Linked DNA regions of Homo sapiens. The protein of the gene in region 5 interacts with the protein of the main gene of each other region in a biochemical or structural test. Each region holds a gene or a part of one and is shown on either strand. Other genes may lie near its edges.

The links.
Region 1: the proteins of PARD3B (region 5) and NRXN3 interact in a test that uses a peptide from one of them, tested with the Homo sapiens proteins (one large-scale study listed by IntAct).
Region 2: the proteins of PARD3B (region 5) and ATP2B4 interact in a test that uses a peptide from one of them, tested with the Homo sapiens proteins (one large-scale study listed by IntAct).
Region 3: the proteins of PARD3B (region 5) and ABCC4 interact in a test that uses a peptide from one of them, tested with the Homo sapiens proteins (one large-scale study listed by IntAct).
Region 4: the proteins of PARD3B (region 5) and CLDN14 interact in a test that uses a peptide from one of them, tested with the Homo sapiens proteins (one large-scale study listed by IntAct).
Region 6: the proteins of PARD3B (region 5) and SDC3 interact in a test that uses a peptide from one of them, tested with the Homo sapiens proteins (one large-scale study listed by IntAct).
Region 7: the proteins of PARD3B (region 5) and GAGE12J interact in a test that uses a peptide from one of them, tested with the Homo sapiens proteins (one large-scale study listed by IntAct).

Annotation. Positions count from the first base shown.
Region 1 is NC_000014.9:78,169,042-78,173,172, reverse strand, and holds the start of NRXN3 (neurexin 3), read right to left. Parts: upstream 2,801-4,131; 5' UTR 2,499-2,800; intron 1-2,498. UniProt on the Homo sapiens protein: Neuronal cell surface protein that may be involved in cell recognition and cell adhesion. May mediate intracellular signaling. Functions as part of a trans-synaptic complex by binding to cerebellins and postsynaptic GRID1.
Region 2 is NC_000001.11:203,706,832-203,710,331, forward strand, and holds part of ATP2B4 (plasma membrane calcium-transporting ATPase 4), read left to right. Parts: intron 1-177; coding exon 178-392; intron 393-1,030; coding exon 1,031-1,273; intron 1,274-2,469; coding exon 2,470-2,711; intron 2,712-3,500. UniProt on the Homo sapiens protein: Calcium/calmodulin-regulated and magnesium-dependent enzyme that catalyzes the hydrolysis of ATP coupled with the transport of calcium out of the cell. By regulating sperm cell calcium homeostasis, may play a role in sperm motility.
Region 3 is NC_000013.11:95,161,952-95,165,451, reverse strand, and holds part of ABCC4 (ATP-binding cassette sub-family C member 4), read left to right. Parts: intron 1-933; coding exon 934-1,074; intron 1,075-1,804; coding exon 1,805-1,842; intron 1,843-2,235; coding exon 2,236-2,330; intron 2,331-3,500. UniProt on the Homo sapiens protein: ATP-dependent transporter of the ATP-binding cassette (ABC) family that actively extrudes physiological compounds and xenobiotics from cells.
Region 4 is NC_000021.9:36,477,323-36,481,367, forward strand, and holds the start of CLDN14 (claudin-14), read right to left. Parts: upstream 2,801-4,045; 5' UTR 2,173-2,800; exon of another isoform or gene 52-2,172; intron 1-51.
Region 5 is NC_000002.12:205,615,975-205,619,474, reverse strand, and holds part of PARD3B (partitioning defective 3 homolog B), read right to left. Parts: 3' UTR 1-3,500. UniProt on the Homo sapiens protein: Putative adapter protein involved in asymmetrical cell division and cell polarization processes. May play a role in the formation of epithelial tight junctions.
Region 6 is NC_000001.11:30,898,759-30,902,258, forward strand, and holds part of SDC3 (syndecan-3), read right to left. Parts: intron 1-3,500. UniProt on the Homo sapiens protein: Cell surface proteoglycan that may bear heparan sulfate. May have a role in the organization of cell shape by affecting the actin cytoskeleton, possibly by transferring signals from the cell surface in a sugar-dependent mechanism.
Region 7 is NC_000023.11:49,320,721-49,324,836, reverse strand, and holds the start of GAGE12J (G antigen 12J), read right to left. Parts: upstream 2,801-4,116; 5' UTR 2,693-2,800; intron 1,652-2,692; 5' UTR 1,644-1,651; coding exon 1,560-1,643; intron 1,095-1,559; coding exon 974-1,094; intron 1-973.

The DNA.
Region 1 (4,131 bases), on a different chromosome or scaffold from region 5:
CCCCCACATCCCCGTTTGCTGTAGCATCTCATCTACCGTTCTCCCACCATTCTCTCATCCCCTACCACCCAAAAGAAAAGACCTTCCTACCATGCACATCGACAAACACACCAACCGCCACCCAATCTCAGTAGCCGATCTCAAAACCCCAAGCATCAGTCCACCTCAATACATCCTTTCCCTTATATAAGCAGCAAATCATCAACATAGTCAGGAGAAACGCAGCACTAAAATGAAATCAACAAAAACGGAGGCCAGAACGCCGTCAAAACCCCAATAATTAATAATAGGGAACTACCAGAGAAGCAAAGACGTAGCTGTCTCTCAAAATCTAGAATCCCTTTAATTTCTGCCCCCTCCTCTTCTCAAGAAGCAATTTTTTTTAAATTATTATTTCACTAGAAAGGGCCAGAAAGCTCCAGAAAAGGGCATTCGCACAGTCCGGTTGTTTTTAAAAAATAAACCCAGCCCTGTTGCTCACTTTAATAGCGAACTTCCAGTGTCCAGCCTTTTCCCCCCCTTCCAGAAGGAAGACTGACTCGCAGGATGAACCTCAGGCTGCAGAAAATGGGCCAAGAGCCCTTACTCCACTCCCCAACAACAACAAAAAATCAAACAATAGGAATATCTGCACAACCAGCACCCGTCTGAAATATCGTTTGCCCCATATGACTTAGGCAGATTAAGCCCGAAGATTAAAAAATAAATACCAGCCTTGCCTCCTCTCACTCCCCTCCATCCTTCCGCCACATACCCAGTAGCCCTTAGGTAAACTTGCCCATCATAACCAGCGGGACCATTTTAACTTGAAAGGCGATGCAGAAGCCCTTGAACGATGAAGGAAGGCTCTACCCAGAACGGCAAATTAATAAAGAGCCAGTTCTCCAGCCTCCCCAGACTAACCTCCAGGTGCCCCCAGATAGACTATCCTGGGTACCAAGTCACGCAGCGTGCTGGGAGTTCAAATTTCCACTGGAACCTTCATCACAAAGGCAAACGGTCATCTGACCCCCAAAATTACACCATCCTCCAGGTGTGACAAGGAGTGCCCCCTCTCCCTCCCAGGGCCATCCACAGGACCCAGCGGAGAGGAAGAAAGAAGAATGTTGGGGTGGCTTGTAGTGGTAAAAGAAAAACTATCTCCCCAAAGCGGGAACCGAAGGAAGCGGGGAGAAGACAGCTCTTGTCCTACCAGCTCTTTTATTTGCCCTGACTCTATCTTGCTCCATCCTAAGCTAGCTCTCAATGATCTCTGACCTTTGCATTAAAAAAAAAAGTATTAACAATAAAGATCAGAGAAGAGCAATCCTACTTTACCTAAACCCCAATAATGGTTAGCAAAAATATGATGTTCTCATTGCATGATGATATTTCTACATCCAAATTAAAAGAGGCAGACATTTAATGGAGGAAGGGAAAATTTTATTTTTTTTTAACAAGTAATCACAGGGTAAGTCACCTGCAAAGCAGCCGAGCCCTTAGGTTGGTATTACATCACTGGCCTAAGAAGGGATGGGGGGTGGGGGGACACATTTTTTTCCTTGTCATCAGGATGATGTTTCTAAAGCAGTTAAGTTTTGTGGTTAAAAAAGAGAGAGGGAAAGAGCTGAAACTCTGGGTACAGCACAATGCCTGGAAAAAACAATACATCGAACCAGGCTTTAAGGTCACTGAGAGCTTGCAAAACCCACAGTGCTTACACAGAGTGGAAGTTTTCAGGCAAGCCTGCTACTAAATCATTAATATAAACAAATGGAAGGCAGTGGAGGAAGATTCCCTTGTAACCGATCCAAACAGGAGCACACACCCGCGCACACACACACACACACACTCACACACACACTCCCTTTTCACCTTCTCCAAGTATGCCCACCTTCACAAGACAGGAGTCCAACCTGAATTTTTAGACTCTAGGACCACCTCCTCACACCCCCTCAAAAAAAAAAAAAAAAAGCACACACACACTCACATACACGTCAATTCCTCAACAGCTAGGGAAATCCCTGTCTCAATTCAATTTTGTTTTCTTGTGATCCTCAGAGTGTCCTTTCTGTTTCTCATTTTAACCAGCCCAAATAAATAAATGAATAAATGAGGGGGGAAGTGACTACAAAATGTCAAAAAAAAAGTATCTGCCCAAAATGAAGTGATGAGCACACATCATTTCAGACTAACAATTCAAGCAAATAGGAGAAAGACTCAAAAAAAAAAAAAAAAAAAGAAGAAGAAGATAAAAATCTAAAACATTCTCTGACTTTTCCAACATCTGGAGGAAAAGGACCCAACTTCCAGGAGAAACTGAAGGAAAAGAAAGGCAGTTGAAAAGCCATTTCCACAGTCAGCCAAGGCTCATGGATACAGTATTCAAAAAAGAAAATCTAGGTTGGTTGCTCCCAACTGAAAACTTCTACCCTCTCAGGAGCAACCTCTTCCCAGAACGGACAAGAACCTTGAGTTGTTTCATGCCCTGACTGCCTTCCTTTCCCCGCAAACCTTACCTTTCCAGTTGAACAGAAGATTTGGGATCTGTCTGTATGTCTGTTTGATGTTTAATCAACTGAGTTTGCTGGGTATGTTTCCTCTTTGGGTAGGTTCAAATTCCAGAATCTTTCTCTCTCCTTTTCCTTTCTCTCTGGGAGGGAGTGGCAGGGTAGAAGGGAGGGGTTGTTGGAGGTGCGAAAAGCAGGTCCTTGGTGGCTGGAGATGCCGAGGCTGAGAGAGGGGAGGACAGGTTGCCTCTCCCTCTCTGTGAGTTGCATGCAAGAGGCGATGTGTAGGGCTGAGCGCTGAGCCTGAGACTGCTGGAGGAGCCCAGGAATTTCACGCACTCCAGAGCCGGCCCCTCCCTCTCCCACACAGACCCCAGCATTTAAAGAGACAGACAGGCCGCCTGGCTCAGGGCTTCACCTCCTCCCTGACTGTTTTGCAAACAGCTGAGAAGATATCATGAGGGAGGGGCAGTTTGCAGCCCCCACAACTAAGAGGCAGTGTCTGAGCTCAGTTCTCCCCTTACTCCAGCCTGAGAGGAGAGTTCTTCCCTAGAATCAGAGTAGGAATTAATATAAAGACAAAATTCTTATTTACAGCTTCAGTAACCAAACCACTTCCCCACTGCTGAGGATGTGTGTGTCTCCTTGCAGACTGAGGGACTCTAACCTACAAGTGTGCCTCAGTTTCCCTGAGTAGTTGCTCTTCCTTGCAAAATCAGGGCAATCTTTGAGCATCTAGTGGAAGTCAGGGCTGTAACTAGGACACAAATCTATTCCTTCAACAAGCACTTTGAATGCCTGCTTAGGATGAAGCATACTGCAAGGGGCTGGGGACATAGAAATGAAAGTGACAAATGGGGCTTCCTCTCTCAGAGCCCCTAGCAGCAAAGACAGACCCAGGCACAGCCCATCCTATCCTAAGGGGCTGCCAGCTAAGGGTCAGAGGCCCGAATCAAGTGTTTTGGTGACTCAGGAAGATGGCTCTCTTTTGTGGCTTGCACTCTGAGCTCTGAGCCTAGACTGCACCCCTAAACCCTTGAAAATCCCTTGCCAGCCTTGACAAACTAGTTCATGTCTGTGGAAACGTTTCCCCAGTCAAACCTAAACAAGAGATGACAGTCGGTGGCACCCAATACAAAGGTTTTGCTCAGCATCAGGCCCTGGCACCTTATGTGAAAATGCAGCCCCAAACTCCTTTCTTCTCCAGCTCCCTTTTTAAGGGCTGCACTGGCATGTCCTCCCTTGGACCAGCACCAATCCACTAATAGCTGTTGAGCACTTACCATATGCCACTACGTGGGTCATCTCATTCAGTCCAGTGAGGTTTGTGCTATTTGACAGTTGAGATCCATTCCACAGTCTTAAAAGTTGAAGCTTTAGAGAGGGTGCCCAAGGTTACACAGCTGGAAGCTGCTAAGAATGAATTTGAACTCAAGTCTATCCCACTCCAGAGCCTGCCTGTTAGCCACAGTACTCTATTGCCTCCAGCCAAGGATGGTAGTTCTTATATTTCTGCCCTTTACTGGATGTTCTTGCAGCATCCTAGCACTTTCCTGACCCAGCAAACTTTAATAGCACATGTACCCGGCATCATGCTCATGAGAAACAAAATGAATCTATCAAGGTCTGAACCCCAAGGACT
Region 2 (3,500 bases), on a different chromosome or scaffold from region 5:
GTTCCCTATGCTATAATGTACAAGCAACAGAGAATGGGGGGGATTTTAGTAAGTCTTCCTGGCGATGGTGGTTTTAATAATTGGCAACAAAGGCTACAACTGATGCCAATCTATCTCTGGCTAGGGCCCTAGGACTGCCCTCCAGCCTGGGTTCATATGACTTGTTTCTCTGGACAGGTCTGCTCATGTCTGCTCTCACGGTTTTCATCCTGATTCTATACTTTGTGATTGACAACTTTGTGATAAATCGCAGACCATGGCTCCCTGAGTGTACTCCCATCTACATCCAGTACTTTGTCAAGTTCTTCATCATCGGCATCACTGTACTGGTGGTGGCTGTGCCAGAGGGGCTGCCTCTGGCTGTCACCATCTCACTGGCCTACTCTGTGAAGGTGAGACTAGAACAATCCTATCTCTTCCTTTAGGATAGAGATGGGAGAGAAGGGTACCATGTAACCTTTAGTGAAAAGATAAGCCATTCTATCATCTATAAACTTTGGCTGGTGCCTCACAAGAGCAGAAGTCCCTGGTATTATGGAAGGACCATCTCTGTCAGATGCATCAATGTTGAAATGACCCAGCAGAATCTTAAGAGAATGACAAAAATGGTATCTTGGATTTTTTTTTTTTTTTAAGACAGAGTCTCATTCTGTCACCCAGGCTGGAATGCAATGATGCAACCTCCGCCTCCCGGGTTCAAGTGATTCTCGTGCCTCAGCCTCCCAAGTAGCTGGGATTACAGGTGTGCACCACCATGCCCAGTTACTTTTTGTATCTTTTACAGAGACAGGGTTTCACCATGTTGGCCAGGCTGGTCTTGAACTTCTGACCTCAGGTGATCTGCCCGTCTCAGCCTCCCGAAGTACTGAAATTACAGGCATGAATCACTGCACCCAGTCAGTATCTTGGATTTTTGTGTGGGACTGGAAGATGAAATGTGGAGAGATGTTGGCTAGGAAATGGCCTTTGACCTAGATTTAGGAGAGTCCAGTTAGTCCCCCTCTCAAGTCTTTTCTCTTCTCCTTTGTAGAAAATGATGAAAGACAATAACCTAGTACGGCACTTGGATGCTTGTGAGACCATGGGCAACGCCACCGCCATCTGCTCTGATAAGACAGGCACGTTGACCATGAACCGCATGACTGTGGTACAAGCTTATATTGGGGGCATCCATTACCGTCAAATCCCAAGCCCTGATGTCTTCCTGCCCAAAGTCCTGGACCTCATTGTCAATGGCATTTCTATCAACAGTGCTTATACCTCCAAGATTCTGGTAAGCATTTCCTTTGCGTAGACACTTAGAGTGGGTGGTTGGAAGGGAACATCCATTTTCTCTGAAATGAACCCCCTTATTGTTTACACTGCCTAAATTGCCATCCCACATCCCATTTCTCACGCTGGAGTGAACATGTTTGGGTGAGACTACAGAAAAATCCCTGGGAGTCAATGGAGGGTTGGAGGTAAGGGCCTGTAAGAATCTATGGCCAGGAAATACCCTCCCAATTAGCATGTAAAAGCAATGTCTCTAAGGAGGGAAAGTAGAAAGTAACCCAAAGTAGAATTGGGCTTATCAGAAGTAAATTACTCACTTTCTAGAAACAAGCATAGTGTATTAGAATAAGACCCACACAAGGCGAGACACCAGCACTACCACTAGAGCAAACTACAAAATCCCTAAGCCCTGGATGGCACAAGGATCACGGTTACCACTGACCCCTCTCTGCCTACCCTTGAAAAACAACAGGCTAGGCATAGTGGCTCACTTCTGTAATCCCAGCACTTTGGGAAGCCAAAATGGTAAGATCGCTTGAGCCCAGGAGTTCGAGACCAGCCTGAGCAATATTGTGAGACCTCATCTCTACAAAAATAAACAAAATTAGCCAGGCATGGTTGCGCACCTGTAGTCCCAGCTACTCCAGAAGCTGAGGTGGGAGGATCACTTGAGCCTAAGAGGTCAAGTCTGCAGTGAGCTGAGATCACACCACTGCAGTCAAGCCTGGGCAACAGAGCAAGGTGCTATGTCAAAAAGAAAAAGAAAAAAGATGCCAGGTGCTGTGGCTCATGCCTGTAATCCCAACATTTTGGGAGGTTGAGGTGGGCAGATCACCTGAGGTCAGGAGTTCAAGACCAGCCTGGCCAACATGGTGAAACCCGGTCTCTACTAAAAATACAAAAATTAGCTAGGCATGGTGGCAGGTACCTGTAGTCCCTGCTACTCAGGAGGCTGAGGCAGAAGAATCACTTGAACCTGGGAGGTGGAGGTTGCAGTGAGCCAAGGTCGTGCCACTGCACTCCAGGCTGGGCAACAGAGCGAGACTCCATCTCCAAAAAAGAAAAAAAAAAATGTTATTTCCCCTATGAGCTCCAGGTATATAATGTGAAGGCTTTGTAAATGAGTTCTTTCTCCCTAAGTTCTCTGCCTTGTCAAGGCATCTTACTCAATAGTGCTGTGTATATTTCTTCTCCCAGCCTCCAGAGAAGGAGGGAGGCCTGCCTCGGCAGGTGGGCAACAAGACCGAGTGTGCTCTGCTAGGCTTTGTCACAGATCTGAAGCAGGATTATCAGGCTGTGCGTAATGAAGTGCCCGAGGAGAAGCTCTACAAGGTGTACACCTTTAACTCAGTGCGCAAGTCAATGAGCACCGTCATCAGGAATCCCAACGGTGGCTTCCGTATGTACAGCAAGGGCGCCTCTGAGATCATCTTGCGCAAGTGAGCACCCCCGACCACTCTGCTTCCCTTCAAGATCCTCTCCTCAGGAAGGCATGGGTGCACACCCCACACTGAACCCATGTGAATGAGGGAGCCCTCCAGCCAGGTGGTGACATAATAACTAATATCCAAGCGTCTACTCAGGCCACGCATGTTTTTTAAGTGCTTAAGGTGGCTTGTTGTATTTAATCCTCACAACTCAGTAAGGTGGGTACTATGATTATCCCTGTTTTACAGATGAGAAAACAGAGATATAAGGAAGTTAAGTATCTCACTCAAGGTGATACAGCTAATAGTGGCACAGCCAGGATTCAGACCTGGACGATCCTAAGTTTCCATTTCCTAATCTGAAAACAGAGATAGCCATACTCAGCTCCTAAAAGTACTACCCCCTCACTGTAACTAAATGATTCAATGTATGTAAAATGCCTTATACATAACAAGTACTAGAAACGTTTGTTCTGTGTTCTCTTTTCCTTCTCTTTCCTTCCCATTCCCATTTCTGATTACAGGGAATTTACATAACTTTAAAAGTGACTATTCGGCCAGGCGCAGTGGCTCACGCCTGTAATCCCAGCACTTTGGGAGGCCGAGGCAGGCAGAACACGAGGTCAGGAGTTCGAAACCAGCCCGACCAACATGGTGAAACCCTGTCTCTACTAAAAAAAAATACAAAAATTAGCCAGGCATGGTGGTGCGTGCCTGTAATCCCAGCTACTCAGGAGGCTGAGGCAGGAGAATCGCTTGAACCCAGAAGGCAGAGGTTGCAGTGAGCTGAGATCGCACCAC
Region 3 (3,500 bases), on a different chromosome or scaffold from region 5:
ATATTCCTTGCCACACAAACCCTGACTATCCAAATCCAGGAGACTGAAGGATTCTTGCAGATATTCAGATTAGGCCCTCACATGCCAAATTATCAGGAGTCAATTTCTGAAACTCAGGAACCAAATAGATTAGGATCATATGCTATCCCTTCCTTTCCAAACTCTGGTTACTGAGACTCACTGCTTGACCCCAGTTACTGTGTTGAGCTCATGTTTTGACCCCCTGCTCTTTTATGTTTCCATCTTGAGTGATGCAGTTGAGAGTTCCATATCTTTTTGTATATGATTTTGGAACAAGTTTCTGTATTGACACTTGAATTTGGGTGTGCTAGGTAAGTGCTGAACATCCTGATGGCATCCTTCCAGCAAGCCACGCCACAATGTCCAAATGATATTTCCTTATCTCTAGTAGAACCTTGAAAGTGGGATGGCTGGGTCCAAGGATTAGTGCATATAGCTGGGTGTGGTGGCTCATGCCTGCAATCCCAGCGCTTTGGAAGTCCGAGGTGAGAGGATCACCTGAGGTCAGGAGTTCCAGATCAGCCTGGCCAACATGGTGAAAACCTGTCTTCACTAAAAAATACAAAAAATTAGCCAGGCGTGGTAGCAGGCATCTGTAATCCCTGCTACTCAGGAGGCTGAGGCAGGATAATTGCTTGAACCTAGGAGGCAGAGGTTGCAGTGAGCCAAGATCGCGCCACTACACTCCAGCCTGGGAAACATGAGCAAAATTCTGAGTCAAAAAAAAATTAAATAAATAAAAAATAAGTGGATGTATAGTTTGGCTAGCTATTTCCACACCCTTCTCCACAGGAGATGGATCATTTTGGACTTCTGCCTGTTTCCCCACAGCTTTGTCAACAGAGTGCATTGTCATCTTTGGGAACAGTTTTGTATACTGTTTTGTCTCTTACCACCTTTTTTCCTCTGCAGACAGAGAATGTCCCAGTTACACTATCAGAGGAGAACCGTTCTGAAGGAAAAGTTGGTTTTCAGGCCTATAAGAATTACTTCAGAGCTGGTGCTCACTGGATTGTCTTCATTTTCCTTATTCTCCTAAACACTGCAGCTCAGGTAAATAATGACATTTGTTTTGCGCCCTCAAAATGATATTTACAGTACCTATGTTTATGCTATTATGACTGCATCTTGCAGTTCACTTGGGGTCTGAATTGAAATGTGCTGTCTTTGGGGAACAAAGTGAGGGCTGCCTACTGGTGTTCCATGTCCGTTACAAAGACCTGCGAAAAAAGGGTATCTTTCAATGATTTTAAAATGGAATATGCATTTTCTTGAACCCTTGATATCTGGGAGTTTGGGCTTGGCACAGACCTGAGCTGGAAGAACTATGCGAGTTCTCTGAGCCTTTTATTCTTTCTTTCTTTCTTTCTTTCTTTTTTTTTTTTTTTTTGAGATGGAGTTTTGCTCTGTTGCCCAGGTTGGAGTGCAGTGGCGCGATCTTGGCTCACTTCAACCTCTGCCTCTGGGGTTTAAGCAATTCTCCTGTCTCAGCCTCCGGAGTAGCTGGGACTACAGGCACATGTGCCACCATGCCCAGCTAGGCTAATTTTTGTATTTTTAGTAGAGATAGGGTTTCACTATGTTGGCCAGGCTGGTCTCGAACTCCTGGCCTTAAGTTGATCCGCCTGCCTCAGCCTCCCAAAGTGCTGGGGTTTACAAGCATGAGCCACCACGCCCGGCTTTGAGGGCTTTCTTTCGGTTGTCCATGTTAGCGATTGAGAGTTTTGAGTTGGTAAGTCATGCCCAAGTTTGATTTTTGTCTTTGTTGTTTCTCCCCTCCTAGGTTGCCTATGTGCTTCAAGATTGGTGGCTTTCATACTGGTAAGTTATTTCTGGTCTGATGTATGAAATACTCCAAAATCAGTAAGAAGACTCGCTTTTCCATAGAGTTAGAGGGAGGTGTTTGTTGATCCTTCTCTTCTAATCCTCACTTCGTTTACCCGAAGAAAAATTAGAGTGCTTGCTGGTGGAGTGTAAACTGCGGTGGTCTCCACCCATGTCTGATCCGCGGCATCATGTTCACAGACAGTTTCGGGAACTGAAAGTTGTGATTTAAATTGAATTTTTATAAGGTAGATATACACAAGACTAAGTGAGCTGAGAATCATTTTCCAGCATGAAGCGTTTCTCCCAAATTGTGGTTCATTTTTAAAAAAATGTATTTATCTAAATTTCATATATAGCTTAATATTTTTTTCTCCCCATGTTCCATAGGGCAAACAAACAAAGTATGCTAAATGTCACTGTAAATGGAGGAGGAAATGTAACCGAGAAGCTAGATCTTAACTGGTACTTAGGAATTTATTCAGGTAAAGTTTAATCATTTGGTGTATTGTATGAGAGGCTGAGGTGCTTACAATGAGCCTGTGTGAGTAACTAGGGCTTCCAGGAGTCATTCAGTAATGTCTTAACAGATCAGGAGTCTCAGTCGAATTTACTCTGTGAATTAATTAGAATAATTATTTTAAAAATCTACTAGAAGAGAGGTTGACTGAAGACTCTTAATTTGCTCTGTACTGGATTTTGAAAGTTAAACCAGGATTGAGCATTCAGAAAATCAGCCACTGGAAATATGTGGCTATTGTCTATTCTAATAGGTTGCTTTAGCTAAATCTTATATCATTATACGGATGGGCAGGGGGATTAGAAACGGATCTCCACCCTGTGGTTCGGATGGTTCCAATTCTGTCTAAATAAACCCTGGCTTTTATTGAACTTGGATGAAATCCTCTGGCAGCAAGGCCCCCAAAATAAAAGCATTATTCCCTCCCAGGTATGCAAAGCTCCCTTCAGCACTGCTCATCTCCTGGGCTTCACTAATTACTTAAGAGGGAAGCTGAGCAGGGAAAAATCCAGTGTCTGGGAATTAGGATGCCTTCTATTTCTTACCTTGAGATCACAATGTTATCGCGTCCCCAACTGTGTGATTAATTTAACATTTGGCTTGCCAGACTAATATTAACGCCACACTCTGTTTTCACAAGAGTGCTTAGAATGTATGTAGCATTACATACTGTTTAAAGAAAATCTTCATCTAAAATTTTAAATATTTCCACAGGAAATGCTCCTACAAGCTTTCCTCAGAGATAGAGTGAGTTATCTTTGTAAGAACCTACTCAGTGAAATTTGGTGTTTATTTCATCGATCGCTTGCTAAGAAATCTAAATCTGTTAGGTGTTTACCTTCCAACTGATGGACTATGTGGAAACTAAAGGAAGAAGGAAATCTATTATGTTCTATTATGTTCGTGTAGGATGGCAGGCTAAGGATAATGCCCGTTGATGGAGTTAGGAATTTGAGCTGCTTTCAGAGGTTAAATAACAGTGACATGTCATCTGAAAGGGAAATATTTGTTATAGAAGTTACCCCCACTGTATTTAGCATTGTGAATGAAGAGATGTTAGGAAAGCTCTTTTAATTTCTATGTGAATAATGGATCCTCATTCATGTCTTAATAAAATGTATGATTTATTTTATTC
Region 4 (4,045 bases), on a different chromosome or scaffold from region 5:
TCTTGCAGTGTTCTGTAGAATCGAAAATATGGTTTCATATGTTTACTTTACCTTCATTTAAGTGTAGCCCTGATGCCTCTGCGAATATCTGCCATGGAAGAGCCTTTTAAAAACAAAGCTCTTGCTGGTCTCCAGTGCCCAAGAGTGGCCGCCAGTGGAAACAGACCTGGTGTTCTAAATCTCAGTTTTTGTTTCTTTCTTCTTCCAAGAAAGCTGTAGATGAGCATGTGCACTTCCAGGCCTAGAAGGGAACAGCTGCCTCTGGGTGGCTCGCCTCTTTGCACAAGGGGCTCAGCTCAGAGCTTCCCCTAAGCCTGGCAGGTCCCCCCGACACTTCTCTTGGGAATGAAGTGGACAAAGTGAGTGAATGAGCCTCAGCTTCTCCTGTCTTTTTATAGAGTCACCCGACAGGGAGAGATAAAGGAGGTGGTAGCAGCTTAGGCCCAGGAGCCCTCTCAGCAAATGGCCCAGAGTAGAAAATTCCCCACACTATGTTGCTGTTGGTCACCCGGTGAAAAGTCCCTGGCCCTGGCAGCCACTTGTCCTGCAAATGGTGCGAGTGAAGAATCCACAGATTAGCTGGAAGGAGGAACGTTTGAGTTTGAAAACGCCAAGAATCATTCCTGAACTGGCAAGGCTGGCCACCTGCGTTTTAAAAACACATTGGCACTAGCCTTGAAAACAGACTTTTAGACTTCTTACTCTGCGTAATGAAAGATCTTTTCTGATATATAGGCAACAGAATGATTTTTTTAAAAACAATAATGGACATATTCCATTTTATTGATCTTTACCTAAAAACTAAAAACTAACTGGAAAACAGGAAATATTTAATAGTGACATTTTCATAGCACCAAAGGAAGAATCTACGTGTCTTCCTTTTTATAGATTTTTCTGTAGATGTCTTAAGAAGCATTGAACCCTTTATACAGATGGGTAAATAAAACACAGTAAGCTTGAGATATGCAAATCAGATTGGAGCCAGATAAGGATGGGGGCTGGCGCTGGCTTCAATTCTGACTAATCTTGGGCAAGCTGCTCAGCCTATTACTCACTGTCTACACAGGAATGACTGTCTACATAGGAATAGCTCCTCTGCAGAGACATCTAGAAGATGCTGAGATAATATATGTAAAAACTGACAAGCCCTTTGGGACAGATACCAGCAAATGCAAGGCGTATGCTATGGAAGTTTTATCATCCTAACAGATAAGCCCGTCCCCAACTCCAGTGAGTGACTGAGAGACACGGGCATGAACGCTGAGCTCAGATGACAGCATCTTTTCACAGCAGACCTGGGCCCAGCCCCTGGAAGCACACGATGATGAACTGTCCTCTGGTTTCCCAAGACTTCAAAAATGAAACCCAGTGATCAAGAGATGTTTGGCTTTGAACACTGCGGGAATTAAAGCCAGCACCCAGTTAAAGCCAGTGAGGACAGCACTCCAAGGTTTGGGGACGGTCTCAGGACACTAATCCTGGTTCCTTTTCTATTTTGCCTGGGTCCCTCCTGCCCATCCTGGGAAGCCGTGGCAGCTGTTGGGGATGTGGGGCCCCAGGTAACTGAAGGATTAACTCACGTCTCAAATTGCATGGCATTTCTCCTCTTCAGCACCATTTTTTACCCTCATTGAGAGAGATCTATCACTTCCCCCCCTCTCCTGCCATGCCAATATGTGTCTGTGTTGGAGGGCAGGGGTGTATTTAGGGAGCAGGAGAATGTTCCCAAGTCTGGAAACTCGGAACAGTCTGCCTGGCCCTCTTTGCAGAAAAACGAGGGAGTCCCAGCAGACAGAAGGGGGCAGTGGCGCTGAGCTCCCCGAGCTGAGCTGTGGCCTCAAAACACTGAACAGATTCAGTCCTTCCTCCCAAACAGGCCTGGTAAGCGATGAAAAGAGTTCTGCCCAAACACTCAGGAACTGGATTATTGTCGTTCCTGGCTCATTAGGAGCCTGGCTGCCCTCATGCCAGCTGCGTGGGGTCCTCTGGAGGCCACCCAGACCAGCCTGCAGCTTCCTTTCCTGTAGGGGCCAGCACGGTCCCTTCCTCTGGAGAACGCTCGGACCCCTGGCTGCATGCACATCTAACCGGCAGGGCCTAAGGGCTTCCAAAACAGATGACTGTCAACCCCAGCCCGCCCACCCCACATCCACAGCTTCACCCCAAACTCACATGCAGAAAACCTCGAGTCTCATCTTCCTGTTCAGGTCCCTTGCCAGCCGGAGCCGCTCTGGAGCCTGGCTGGACTCCAGCTCCCATGTGCAAGAGGACTCAGCCGGGACGCTGCCACCCTCCTGCCTTCCCTCTTCTGCCAACCAGACGCTTCCAGGACGGAGTATTTGAGAGAAAATTGTCTAGACAATTACAGTGTTCCTTAGAATGGCCTGCGTGGGCACACGTGCCACTTGGTTAGCTAGCATGAGAGGAGGTGGCTTGGCCAGAGCAGACATTCAAGACCAACCAGAAATGTCATTTCTGCACTGTGGAAAAAAAATGCACGATACACCTGAACCTGGGCATCTCCTTCCTAACACGCGCTCAGGATCAAGCCTCCCCTTCCCAGCCTGGCAGGGTTGCAGGGCGTCCATAGTCCAGCCTACGCCTGCCCAGGCTCTCGGCTCCGGGTCCATTGGCTGTTCACACTCACTTCCCTGTGTCCTGGAACTGCCTGATTGTTGTAGATTACTAAAAATCCACAGCTCATTCCCTCCTGCGCCCTGACCACCTGCCCACAGCGACTGTGTCCTCCTCTGAGCCACCACCTGGCGGTTGTCCTCACACTGCTTTGGACTTTTCTGCTATTGAGTAACTCAGCTTCTCAGCCTTTAGGCTGCTATGGGCCCTAGATGCATGCTGGTCGATTCTGATCAACGAGCAACTGCTTTTGTTTGTTTGCTTTTTTCTACAGCTGCAGCTGTGGGTGATTCGGATGGTCTGTTGGTGGAATGTGGAGCTGGACGGGTCAAGGAGCACAGTGTGGAAAGAGGGACAATTTGCTACAAGTTGGAGATAAGAGACATGGCATACTGTGAAACCAGTGCTGACGGAAGAAGGTGACTTTCTTGGAAGGTCAAGACACTTGCTTGACAGCGATGTCCAGGAGGGCTAGGGAGAGTTCTGCTGGAAGTGAAGGCAGCACCTGAGGGTGGCTGAGGGAACTGGTCAGGGCTGGGAACGCCTCCAGCCCTTTGAGGAATGATTCGCTGATTAAGAGATGTTTGGCCTTGAAAATTGCAAGAATGAAATCTCTTGGTGGGAATGTGTAGCCAAAAGCCAGCACCCTGAGTGGCTCCAAGGTTTGGGGACCCTCTCAAGGCACAAATCCCAGTTCCTTTTCAATTTTGAAAATCGTTGTGGGCGATTCTGGAATTGAGAAGTGTGCTGAGAGCCATGGATTTAACATGACAAGAATTTCCGCCCCTTCGTCACTGAGCACACCGCAAATGCTCCAGGGCCAGGGACTTACTTGGGCTTCTGCGTGTCTTCCACAGTGTGCATCAATCCGCCGGGCTCTGGTTGGTGTTTAAAAAAAAAGATGCAGCGAAGGAATCTGGTGTGGACAAACGCCCTGGGCATGGACCAAAAGCCTGGCCCTTGTGTCCCTGGCAATGGGACGGTGAAGGACAGAAAGACAGCACATCCAGTAGTGTCAGGAGCTTGGAGCAGGCATTCGGAAGCATCTGTTAAATGTTATTGATGGAGGATTGACATAACCCACATCTGCATAGCTTTTTTGGTCTGTTTTTGGAAGTGAACAGTCACAAACAAAAACAACTTTGGTTCAGGTCATTTATAGGCCCAGATCCTCTATCCTTAGAGGTTTCCCACCAGATATACTATTTCACTATCTATGCCAGGAAAGTTACGTAAAACCACGCAGAATTTTACCTGACAACGAAATAGACCTTTTCGTTAGATCCTCCACCCCACCTAAAGCAGTTACACAGGCTGAAATGAAACTGTTAAAGGAATGAACTAACTTGGAGATAGAATCATCGCCTTTGCTGAACACCATTTTAAGAATATTGGAATATATAGGGGTACC
Region 5 (3,500 bases):
CGTAGACTCAGAAAGCAGTAGGGTGTTCTCCCAATTTAACACCAATTTGAAGGCCATTGATTGTAGGTTTCAGAGTTTAATGCCAAAGGGAATTGTACAGACACACATTCAGACCAAACTCTTTAGATCTCTCGACCCTCCTGAAATGCTACAATGTTCCTCCAAAGAAAACGAATGCAGTGGTTACAGGTTTGGGGAAATAATTACTTTTTTATAGGCTTGATATTTGTGCATACCAGGGAAAAGAGAAATGAGCTTTATGAGCCTCCTAACATTGTTAGGTGGCTTTTCTTCAGAAGATCACTTTAGCTCAAGAATTTTATGAATCTTTGGAGGGGACAATGAGTCATGTTTTAATTTGATTGACTTGGTGGAAAACTATAGCTACAGTGAAGCCTCTGTTCTTCCCCATCAGGATCCACGGGTGACAGTCGGTCTCAGAACCCCTACTATGCTCTTAAGATCTTTACTTGGTGCCATCCTGTGGGAGTCAACACATATATATCTACAGATCTAAGAATAATGAGCTTCAGAATAATTGTTTTTTCAATTTTTGTTTGCTATTAGGTTATGATTTAGGAAAATGTTCCTGTTTCTGAGCTTGTATTTCATCCACTGATTTGATATTGTTAGGAAACGGTATTATGGCAAGGGTGAGAGTGCCACAACCCGATGGCATAATGGATTCTGGGGAGGCTGTGTTTCTCTCCCTTGTGGAAGTCTCAATTCTCCTGCATCTAAAAGTTTTCAATGGTCTGTCCTCTTTCATCTCTCTACTCCTGCAAAAAGGGAGAAAAATAGGGCTTCTTAAAATATCTAGTGACTTGAGGGCAAACATCATTTCACGGCCTTCATGACCCAGCAGTCAGATCTGCAGCCAAGTGGATGTATGTTGATTGGGTTTGGAGCTCAATGTGCCACTCTCTTCCAGGGGGGCTATTAGTGTTCTGAGCTACAAGGAGACACCGGATTGAGTTTTCCCAAGGCCATAAATAAATTGGGAGCTATTTCCTGCTCCCAGGCACATTACTGATTATAGCCTGGTCTTCTAAATACTCTAAAAGCCTGTTCCCCTAAATGCTGGGAAAGAGTCCTGTAACCTCTGGGTGGTAACAATTGAAGGGTGAGTACACGGGCATTTATAAATCTTACACTTGAGCTGTTAATTGTTGCTTGGCTTGATGGAGCCTCTGTCTGTCACAAATATAATGTTAGCTTCTTTCAGGCAGGATCAAATGGAGCGTGTGTTATACTTCAAGCAAGGAAAGAAAACTGTTGCAATCTAGTTTTTGTTCACTTTAATAGTACCTTCACATCACTGGCTGCCATTCAGGATTAGCAACTATTTTATTGACTTTGTATGCAACACAAAACCCAGCTTTGGAGCAGTTTACCCTGAGCCTGTGTGCAGGAGGTATTGCACACTCTGGTGGCAACGCTGCAGGTGAAAACATGGGCACTCTTCCTGTAAAGGCCACTCCTTCAAGACACAGGATTCTCACCTGACACCATCACCCCTGGCTGCCCCTCAAGTGGCCTAGGCTTAATCCAGAAGGAATGTTCTGGCTTGGCTATGTTTAGTAGTCTACAGTAGTTTGGTTAAAATATGGAACATAGTGAAGAGCTGCTGGTTTTTAATGCTTCAAAACAAGTTACACGTCCCTCGTGTTATCATTTTCCTTAAGGTGTATTCAACTCGAGGGGAAGGTAGCATTCAGCAGGTCAGCAGGGAAACCGGTAGCTCCCCTGCACTCCACCTCACGTGAGCAGGGCCTGAGATCCTCAACCACTTCGAACAAATTGCAAACACTCTAAAGGTGCCTGGCTTAAGAGAGATGACAGAACAGAGACAAAAAACTTGATAGTCTGTTTTCAACAGGGCCATAGTAAAGTGTAGTTAAGAAAATAATATCACAAAGTCCAGTAAATAACACTATTTACATCTAAAACTAGCAGTTGCATCCTTCTTGGTAGCAGAATACTATTTTAAATTAAAAAGATAAGAGTAAGCTGGGGTAGAGGGATGTCCTATGTATTCAATAATACTATAATTTATTAAATCCTGTGAGTCAGAGGTATGCTAATCTCAGCCAAAATAGACCTAAATTAAACTCAAGACTTTTTTTTTTGGAGGGAATAAAGAAGGAATGTGAAAAGGCTTAAAGCATTTCAAATGTCAGTGCCTGGTTCAAACCAGTGCTCAGGTTTTGCTGTCTTCCACATCTTTTGCTTGTGTTCTCATTTGGGCCAGCTTGTATGTTTTAGAGGTTTTAGTTTCCATAGAAAATTACTGCAAAGCTCAGAAAACATTGTGATCTACTTAGAGGTTGGGGTTTCAGCTTTTTAAAGCCATAACACTGTCCTTTGCCAATTGGAGGCCTTGGCCCTGCCCTGACCTGACTTTAGCTAATGAAATATAGCAAATGCAGATGGATTTAGCCTTAGCGCCTTTTCTCCGTTTCCCCCACTTTTGCATCAAACTCTCCAGAAAGCATTATTAATCTTTCATTCTCCATACTGGCAATCATATGTGTTCGAACACACACATACACACACACACACATACTCTCTCTCTCTCTCTCTCTCATTCACTTCCATCTAATACCTGCTGGTCATCAGAGGCCATGGTCAGCTCCTCGCTGTCCCCGAGTGCAGATGGTTACTGCTTGGCACTGAGTCTGGACTTGGCATTTCCCAGGGCACTGCCTCCTGTGAGACCTCCCCAGTAGGCCCTCTTTCCCAACTACATTTTAGCCCTCAAGTGGGAACCTTAGAGACCCCAGTTAAAGTAATTATAGGCAGGAGATTTGGGGCTGACTCTGAAACCAGATATCTCCATGCCTGGAATGTGGGAGGGAGGAAGGTGAGGGCCGTGGGATGTTGAACCCTCTTAACCTGATCACCTTAGTCCTCGGAAGATATTCCTTCTGGAAGCTCTGACCAGCTGTGCACATCCTCCCGGGACTAATACTGCATTTTACCGACTTTCATATCAAAAGTGAGGAAACATGAAATGTTTACATCCAATGAGTGGTATCAGAAACCTGATAAATTCTACAAATAAATGCAGTCTTTCTCTCGGTACAAAATATTTCAAGATCACTAGTCATGTTTGCTGTTGTTTTTTTTCTTAGTCAAAAAACCTATACTCACTTCAGATGCCTCTATCTCTGTCTGCTCTGCCACACCTTAGACTTAACAGCTCTAAGAAGGGGGCTGAGGCTCCACCTCGGAGCGGGTAATGCTGCCTGGCAGAGACTGCCTCTGGACCGCCAGTCTCAGAGGGGGATGTCCACGTGTCTGCACATCAGCACAGGTTATCTAGCCAGAGAGGATCCCCAGAGTAGAGTTCCATAATTAGTTGTTTGTGTGTTCCGTTGCCACTCTCACTGATTTGAACAACTCTGAAAGCGTTTCAACTATCAGGTAGTTTTGTTTTTATAGCCCCATCTTTCGTCTTCCTTCTGATTTTTTTTCCTCCCCAATTCCCTTCCCCTTCT
Region 6 (3,500 bases), on a different chromosome or scaffold from region 5:
TAGTTCCTCAAATCTGAAGACTACAAGGGCCCCTGGGTCACCATTCACTCTTCCCATTTAACAGACGTGGAAGTGGAGGCCCAGAGAGGGAACAGGCTGCCTGCTACCACTTGACAAGCTAGTGGCAAATTCACCTCTGAGACACAACCACCTTGGGGAATGTATAATAATTAAAAGTCATCACCCAGCAGCAGGTTCCTTTTAACCATCTGCACCTCCCACCACTCCTCACCACCACCTAACGGGTCAGGGATCACTGGATCTGTCTGACAGAAGAGGAGACTAAGGCTGAGTCAAGAGTCACTTAGCCAAATCCACCCACTTCTTCGTTTCGTTGTTGTTGTTTGAGATGGAGTCTCGCTCTGTTGCCCAGGCTGGAGTGCAGTGGCACAATCTCAGTTCACTGCAACCTCCACCTCCCAGGATCAAGCAATTCTCCTGCCTCAGCCTCTGGAGTAGCTGGGATTACAGGTGTGCACCACCATGCCCAGCTAATTTTTGTATTTTTAGTAGAGATGGGGTTTCACCATGTTGGTCAGGCTGGTCTCGAACTCCTGACCTTGTGATCTGCTCGCCTCGGCCTCCCAAAGTGTTGGGATTACAGGCATGAGTCACCAAGCCTGCCTTGTTGTTTTTGAGACAGTCGCGCTCTGTCACCCAGGCGAGAGTGCAGTGATGCGATCTCGGCTCACTGCAACCTCCGCCTCCCGGGTTCAAGCAATTCTCTGCCTCAGCCACCCAAGAAGCTGGGATTACAGGCACCTGCCACCGCCTGGCTAATTTTTGTGTCTTTAGTAGAGATGGAGTTTCACCATCTTGGCCAGGTGGGTCTTGAACTCCTGACCTCATGATCCACCCGCCTTGGCCTCCCAAAGTGCTGGGATTACAGGCGTGAGCTACCTCGCCCAGCCAAAATCCACCCACTTCTAATGGCAGAGCTGGGGCTCAGCCTGTCAGGGAGGAGGGGTAGGGCTTCCTCCCTGCTTCTCTTCAATTCCCCCCTCGAGACCTCACAAAAGCACATGCACCTGCCACCAGTAAACCTGCCTGAAGCAAGACATGGCCAGACAAGACATAGGACACACACGACACAACTGAACACTGACAGCCCCCTTGCACAGGGCTTCATATACAGCAGGTGCTTAGTAAATGTCTGCTGAGTGAGCAACGCAGTCAATCAAGACAGGCGCCCATGCAGGAGCCCACACGTCTGCCTGATGCCCTTGTGTGGGGAAAAGAAAGAGATCAAAATGGAGTTTCTTATGTCTTCCTTTTCTACATAGACACAGTAACAGTCTGATCGCCCTTTCTTTTCCCCACGCTCTTGAACGAGCATCTCCATAAGCACCCAGGCTCCAGGCTCAGAGTCCTGCTAACTGCCCCACTGTGGGCACATTGCTCAACCTCTCAGGGCCTCTGTGCCCCCATCTGTAAAATGGGGTAACCATGCCTGCCTCACAGGGCCATAGTGAGGACCCACTGAGATAAAGCATGTTAAGCACTTAGAACCACACCTAGCACATGACATGCAGCAGTAAGTATTGGCCGTTATCTTTCTCATCATCTTCCTCGTCATCATCTGTGCTTGTGTCTGTCTCCCTGACACAGGGAGCATCTTGAAGGCAGGAACCAGGTAAGATGCAGCTGCAGACACCCCCCAACAATGGCATCCAGGCCTTGAGGAGGGGGCATTAAGCAAGGGGTGGATGACAGAGGGTAAAGACTGACACAGGCACCTATACCCCAACTGTGGGCCTGGACAGGGAATAGTGTATGGCTTCTGTCAGGTAAAAATGCCCTTCCCCTGCTCCCAAAACAACAGTCCACCTCCCCCCAGCTCTCCAGGAGCCTTGCCTACTCAGGCCCTGCATCCCCCACGGAGCACCCCCAAGCCCCAGCCCAGGGAGGGGGACAGGTCTAATGAGCCGCCCACAGCCCCCTGGTGCCCGCAATCGAATTGGCAATCAGTTTGCTGCAATTAGATTTCCCAGATCCCGCTGGTGATTGATTCTAAATTACCCTCATTAAAGTCTGGGCTGGCAGGCAGGGATGGGGGAGGGCAGGATGGATGGGGGGGTCCTAGCTGGCAGTGCAGGGGGTACAGGAATCTCTAGGGTCGCCTGGGCCAAGGCTAACCCCAGGGTGAAGCAGCACCAGACAGCACCCTGGAAGCCCATGGCCCATCCAAAAGCAGGATGAAGGCCCAAGTCAGTGTTATCCCCAGTCCCAGCTGCACCCCCAGAAAACCCTGGCTAAGTAGGGGATGTGACGACAAGATCAGATGGGGCTCCAGGGTAGGAGAAGGGGCAAATGAACACCAGGCTCCACCAGCTCCTGGCTGTGTGTGCTTTGGCAGGTGGCCTAACATCTCTGAGCCTTCCTCTAAATAAGGGGAATCCCACCAGCCCCTCAAGAGTGGTGGGAGGCTCAGTGGGACCATCTAAGGCTGGAGAGCCAGCCCCAATCCATTGGCAAGGCCCCAGGCTGTGGCTGGGCCATCAGCTGTGGGATGTCAGGCTGTAGGGCTGGCCATCTCTCTAGGACTCTCCACCCCTGAGATCCTGCGTAAACATCAATAGTCACCTACTCTGGGCCAGGGCCCATGTGACAGACAGAACACAGCCGAGATGCTCCCTGGCTGGGAGGAAAATGGAAAGCACCCAGTCTCACCAAGTCCTGGGCTCAAGCTGCAAATAACAAGGCCTCTCTGGAGTTCCAGGAGTGGAAGGGCCTGAAGAGTCATCATGCAGGATGGACTGCAGGCTGCTCAACAGCTCTGGAGAACCAGCCCCCAGAAACTCAGCACCACGGACCCTAGAATGTGCTTCCTCTCATCTGGCTTAAGTCCTGCTGGCTCCAACTGGGAGTCCGGCCCTTGGTCTCCTTCTAAGGGTACCCCCACCCCCAGAGTTCTCCTTCAGGCCATCCATGATTATTCAAACTTAGTTCCCCCTCTCTCCAAAAGAAAACCCTGCTCCTCACCCCCAAGCAGTAGTTCTTCAGTAAGACCCAGAGAGGGACAGAAAAAGAACAAAAACCAAGGCAGGTGAATGGAAAAAAAACAAGATTTGCAGGAGCAGCCCGCTCCTTATTTACTTTAGTACTTTATTTACTTTATTACTTTATATTACTAATTCTCAAGCAACCCTGAGGTCCCATTTTAAAGAAGAGGAGACTGCGGGTTCAGAGAGGTTAGGTGAACTCACCAAGGTCACACAGCAGGAATGTGACAAAGCCAGGATTTCAACCCTGAATCAGCTGGCTCCAGGATCCCTACTCCTTCGATGACTTCAAGCTGCCCCCTCAGGCTTGGGACACCCCAAAACAGACATAGCACCAAGGCCAGGGGTGGGGAGAAGGCAGGCCTCAGCCAGCTGGGGCAACAGGGGTTGTAGAACCCTCTCCACCTGGTATAAAAGGCCAGCATAGGCGTTTCCTGCCCTCCACCCACAGCAGCCAGGTAAAAAAAGGGCCAGATCATTTGTTGGGGCCACCGCCAC
Region 7 (4,116 bases), on a different chromosome or scaffold from region 5:
TTACCTATTGGGGTAAAGAGAAACTTCACTTTGTTCAAATAAAGTTATATTTAGGTCCGAAGGTCCTAAAGGTAATATTCCATAAATGAACCCCGTGAAGAACAAAGCACCAAATATAACATTGTTTGTGAATCACAGAAAATATACTGTCCCGCACTGAGAATAAGGGAGTGGGTGGACAGCAATTAATGGGCATTGTTGTCAGTCAGATTCTAGGAACTTTTAACAGTGCATCCCTGGAATAATCCATGACCTCCATTACATAAACGCTTCCTTTCAAAACATTTTATCTCGGAGAAATTATTTCCATCTCACGTTAATCTCAGGATAATTCCGTTTTTGCTTTTCTAACCATAAAAGGATTTAATCACCTCCTAAAAGCCGCTGAGAAAAATCACTAAACCAGCTACCTGTATGGCAGTATCCTCATTTATCCAGCTTTTATCAAACGTACCATATAAAAATATCAATCAAAGGAAACGGGGGCCAACATTCAGCGACTCGGTTTTTGGAGCTGCTCCTGCTCCTCTGAACTGGGTCTATTCTTGGGTCAGTACTAAGCTACCTTACAGTAAAGCCTTTTGAGTTTTAAGCATTTTCAGCAAAATCACTTCCTTCTTTACAGCAACACACATGATAGGAAGACACAAACCTTGGAACACAATACAAATGTTGTATTCACCAGTCAAGGGTTCTTGGATAACACACAATCCTGGCACCTCCATTCTCTCATTCATAAAGTCGAGAACTTTTATCATAGTGAGGGATTTGCCTAAGCTAAGCTGCAAACTACATAGCCTCCTCGCTTTTCCAGTCAATTTCAGGCATTCTTTCCATTGTTTTCTTTCCTCCTCTTCCTCCTATGTGACAATGCCTAACACACACACACACACACACACACACACATGCACACACACACACGAACACACACACACGCACACACCAGCAGACGTTCTTCTTCCCTTTCCCTCACCTTGACCTGCAGATGCTCCCTCATCCTCTCCCTCCTGAGCAGCTGCAGGATCCTGACGTTGAGTTGCTGGTTCCCCTTCTTCAGGTGTTGCTGGTTCCACTTCATCACTGAACTGCTCGGGCTGGGGAATACGTGTGGGTGTGCAAATAAAAAATAAGTTTCGTTATTGATACAAAATTTTACATATATACACAGAATACATAGCTATTTCTGGTCCTAACTAAGCCTAAAGACATTTCTCCAACTCTATGCTCTATGCCCAATAAGGTTACTCCACCCACAGGGAGGTTACTGTGAGAAAAGTGACGCACGAGGACTTTGGAGGCTATTGTACTCTGTGTTGGAATACATGTGTACAATCTGTCATTAACAAACAAAGCCGGAGAAAGAAGTCATGGGCAAAAGCTGAAGAACACGAGAGGAAAAAAAAAATCCTCCAGAATCAATGTTTCCTTCATGAGATGCCATCATCATTTTTTATGAGCAGGAAAGACCTTTATCAGCATTTCCACACTAATGCAACAACGCTATCACAAAAATTAATTTCTACTAATAGAAAACATCGAATTAACGTTCAAGCACTCACCCGCATAGGCCCAATCATTTCAGGAGGCTGTACATAGGGTCTTGGTCTAGGCCAATAATAGGTCGATCTTCCTCGCCAACTCATATTTCACACTGAAAACAGACAACCGTGATTGGGAACGTGCGCTCCACAGGGCTGCTATATTCGATCACTTCCATGGATAAATGTAAACTTGCCGTTTTACTTTTGAAAATACTCTCAAGATAAGTCCCAGAGTTAAGCATACGTGTGTACGCTGTCTGAGTGCCTACAAAGCCACTTCTGCTGGCCAGGCTGGCAGAGCAATCATCTTAAGGCATGTGGCAAAAGGCAGAGGACATTTTTTTCTAAATTTCTTTTGGACACGCGGTCTCGCTGTGTTGCTCAGGCTGGAGTGCAGCGGCGTGATCACAGCTCACTGCAGCCTCGACCTCCCGCTCAAGGGATCCTCCCACCTCAGTGTCCCGAGTAACTGGGACTACGTAGGCGAGCGCCACTGCGCCCCGCAGACAGAGGTCATTTCTGATGAGGTTTAGTTTCACAAGTGCACTCCCCACGAAAACCCTAGTGAATCACAATTCTCGTGATTGCTGCTTTGGGCACACTCCCACTTCCTAGAGCCATTCACCCCCCCTCACAACAAGTTTGGTTGGACCGCACTGCCTCGCCCACTCCTTCCCACTGTTTTCGGACCTTCCATGGCGGAGGTGAGACCTTGCAGTGCTTCTCACTCAGGCGCTCCGCACTCCACACCGCTGGGGGGGGCGCTCACCAGGCCGCAGCCTTCCCAGGTGCCAGGCCCCTTCTTCACCGCCCGCCTCGCCCCCGCCGGAGGCCCCATTCAGGGAATCTGCCCTGTGTCGTCGGGGGTTCCCGGCACCTCGGGACTTCCATCCCCCCAACAGCACTCACCCCATCTTCACCTGAGCCCCTGACCGCCTCCCCTCCACGGCCCACCTTCCTCCCCGTCCAGGCCCCTTCACGACCACGAAGCCGCCGGTGGCCTCGCAGCCTGTGAAGGGAAGGAGGACGACCTCGTGGCCCTTCTCCCTCGGAGGCCACAGACCAGGAAGCGGGACCCGCCTGACCCACCCAAGGCCCTCTCCACCCTCACTCACACTTCAGCCCCCGGGATGACTGGCCTGCAGACCTACCAGATGAATCTCAGTAGAGGAAAAAGAGTCCGGACGGCAGGAACCACACAGCACTGCCTCACAGCTCCCTGGCGTTCTTCACGTGGGCGAAGGGGCCGGGCAGAAGACGCCCAGTGAACATGCGCACTGAGGCGGGAGCCCAGGGAGCATGCGCGGCTGTGGGCTGGGGAGGGCTGCCGTTCCCAGCGCCACGCCCCAAACCCTCCATGCCCATCCTCATTGAGGATAAGGGAATCCCACCTCCCTCTGCTGTTTCCTATGCCTCTGGGACTCAAGTAGTGCTCCCCTCAAAACTCACCCCATCTTCAACTGAACCCCACCCCCAACCCAGGGCCCTCTCTTGCCCCGGACCCACCATGGGGACAAGGACCACTGTGACTGGCTGGGAAGACAGGTAAACCACCTGCGAAAACAGAAATAGCAACCTATCCCAAAAGGAAATTGTTCATTGTGAACAAGTCAGAGAAAGAGACTGAAAGAAAAATGAATAGAATCGCTAGGACCCGTAAGAAAATGCTAAAACGATATCTATCATTTGTAGCATCAGAATCACAGAGGGTGAAGTGACAGTATTAGGGAAACAGGACAGCCAGAGTGAAACCACGTGAAAATATACTCCGTCTTGAAAGCAGCAAGATACATAGTCCTACCAGTCACAACCCATGGTCCTAAGATGTTTGGAGTTGAGAAAACAGATGAAAGGTACCTCCAAGGACATGCTCCCACAGCAGCGGAAAGTGCACGGTTCCCAACACCCATTAACAATATATGCTTTCAACAGAATTATGCTTTCATGGCCTTACACACTGGTAAGTCAAGGATAGTTTTCTTTAAATCAATAGAATGATAAAAGTCATCATGCTCTTAGCCCACCCGCACAAAGGCACAGATTAACTTTAGTCTTTATATAGATAAGACCCCTATATAAGAAAAACCAGACCAGGCCAAGGCTCACGCCTGTAATCCTAGTATTTTGGGAGGCTGAGCTGGCCAGATCACCTGAGCTCAGGACTTCGAGACCAGCCTAAGCAACATCAGAAAATCTCATCACTACAAAAAACAAACAAAAAACCATCGAAAAATTAGCTGGGCATGGTGGCATGTACCTATACTCACAGCTACTCAGGAGGCTGAGGTGGGAGGAGCGCCTGAGCCCAGGAGGTCAAGGCTGCAGCGAGCTCTGATAACACCACTGCACTCCAGCCTCGGTGACAGAGTGAGACGCTGTCTCAAGTTTTAATAATCGAACCTAAAAACGTACAAATTTATCAATCGAATTCACTATATTAACACATGAATGGGAAAAAACGCTGTGGTAATCGAAATAGATGCACTGTTTGATGAAAATCAACATATATTCAAATGAATACTCTCAGCAAATTTGGAACAGAATGGAATGACTCACTCTGATAAAGTCCATCTAC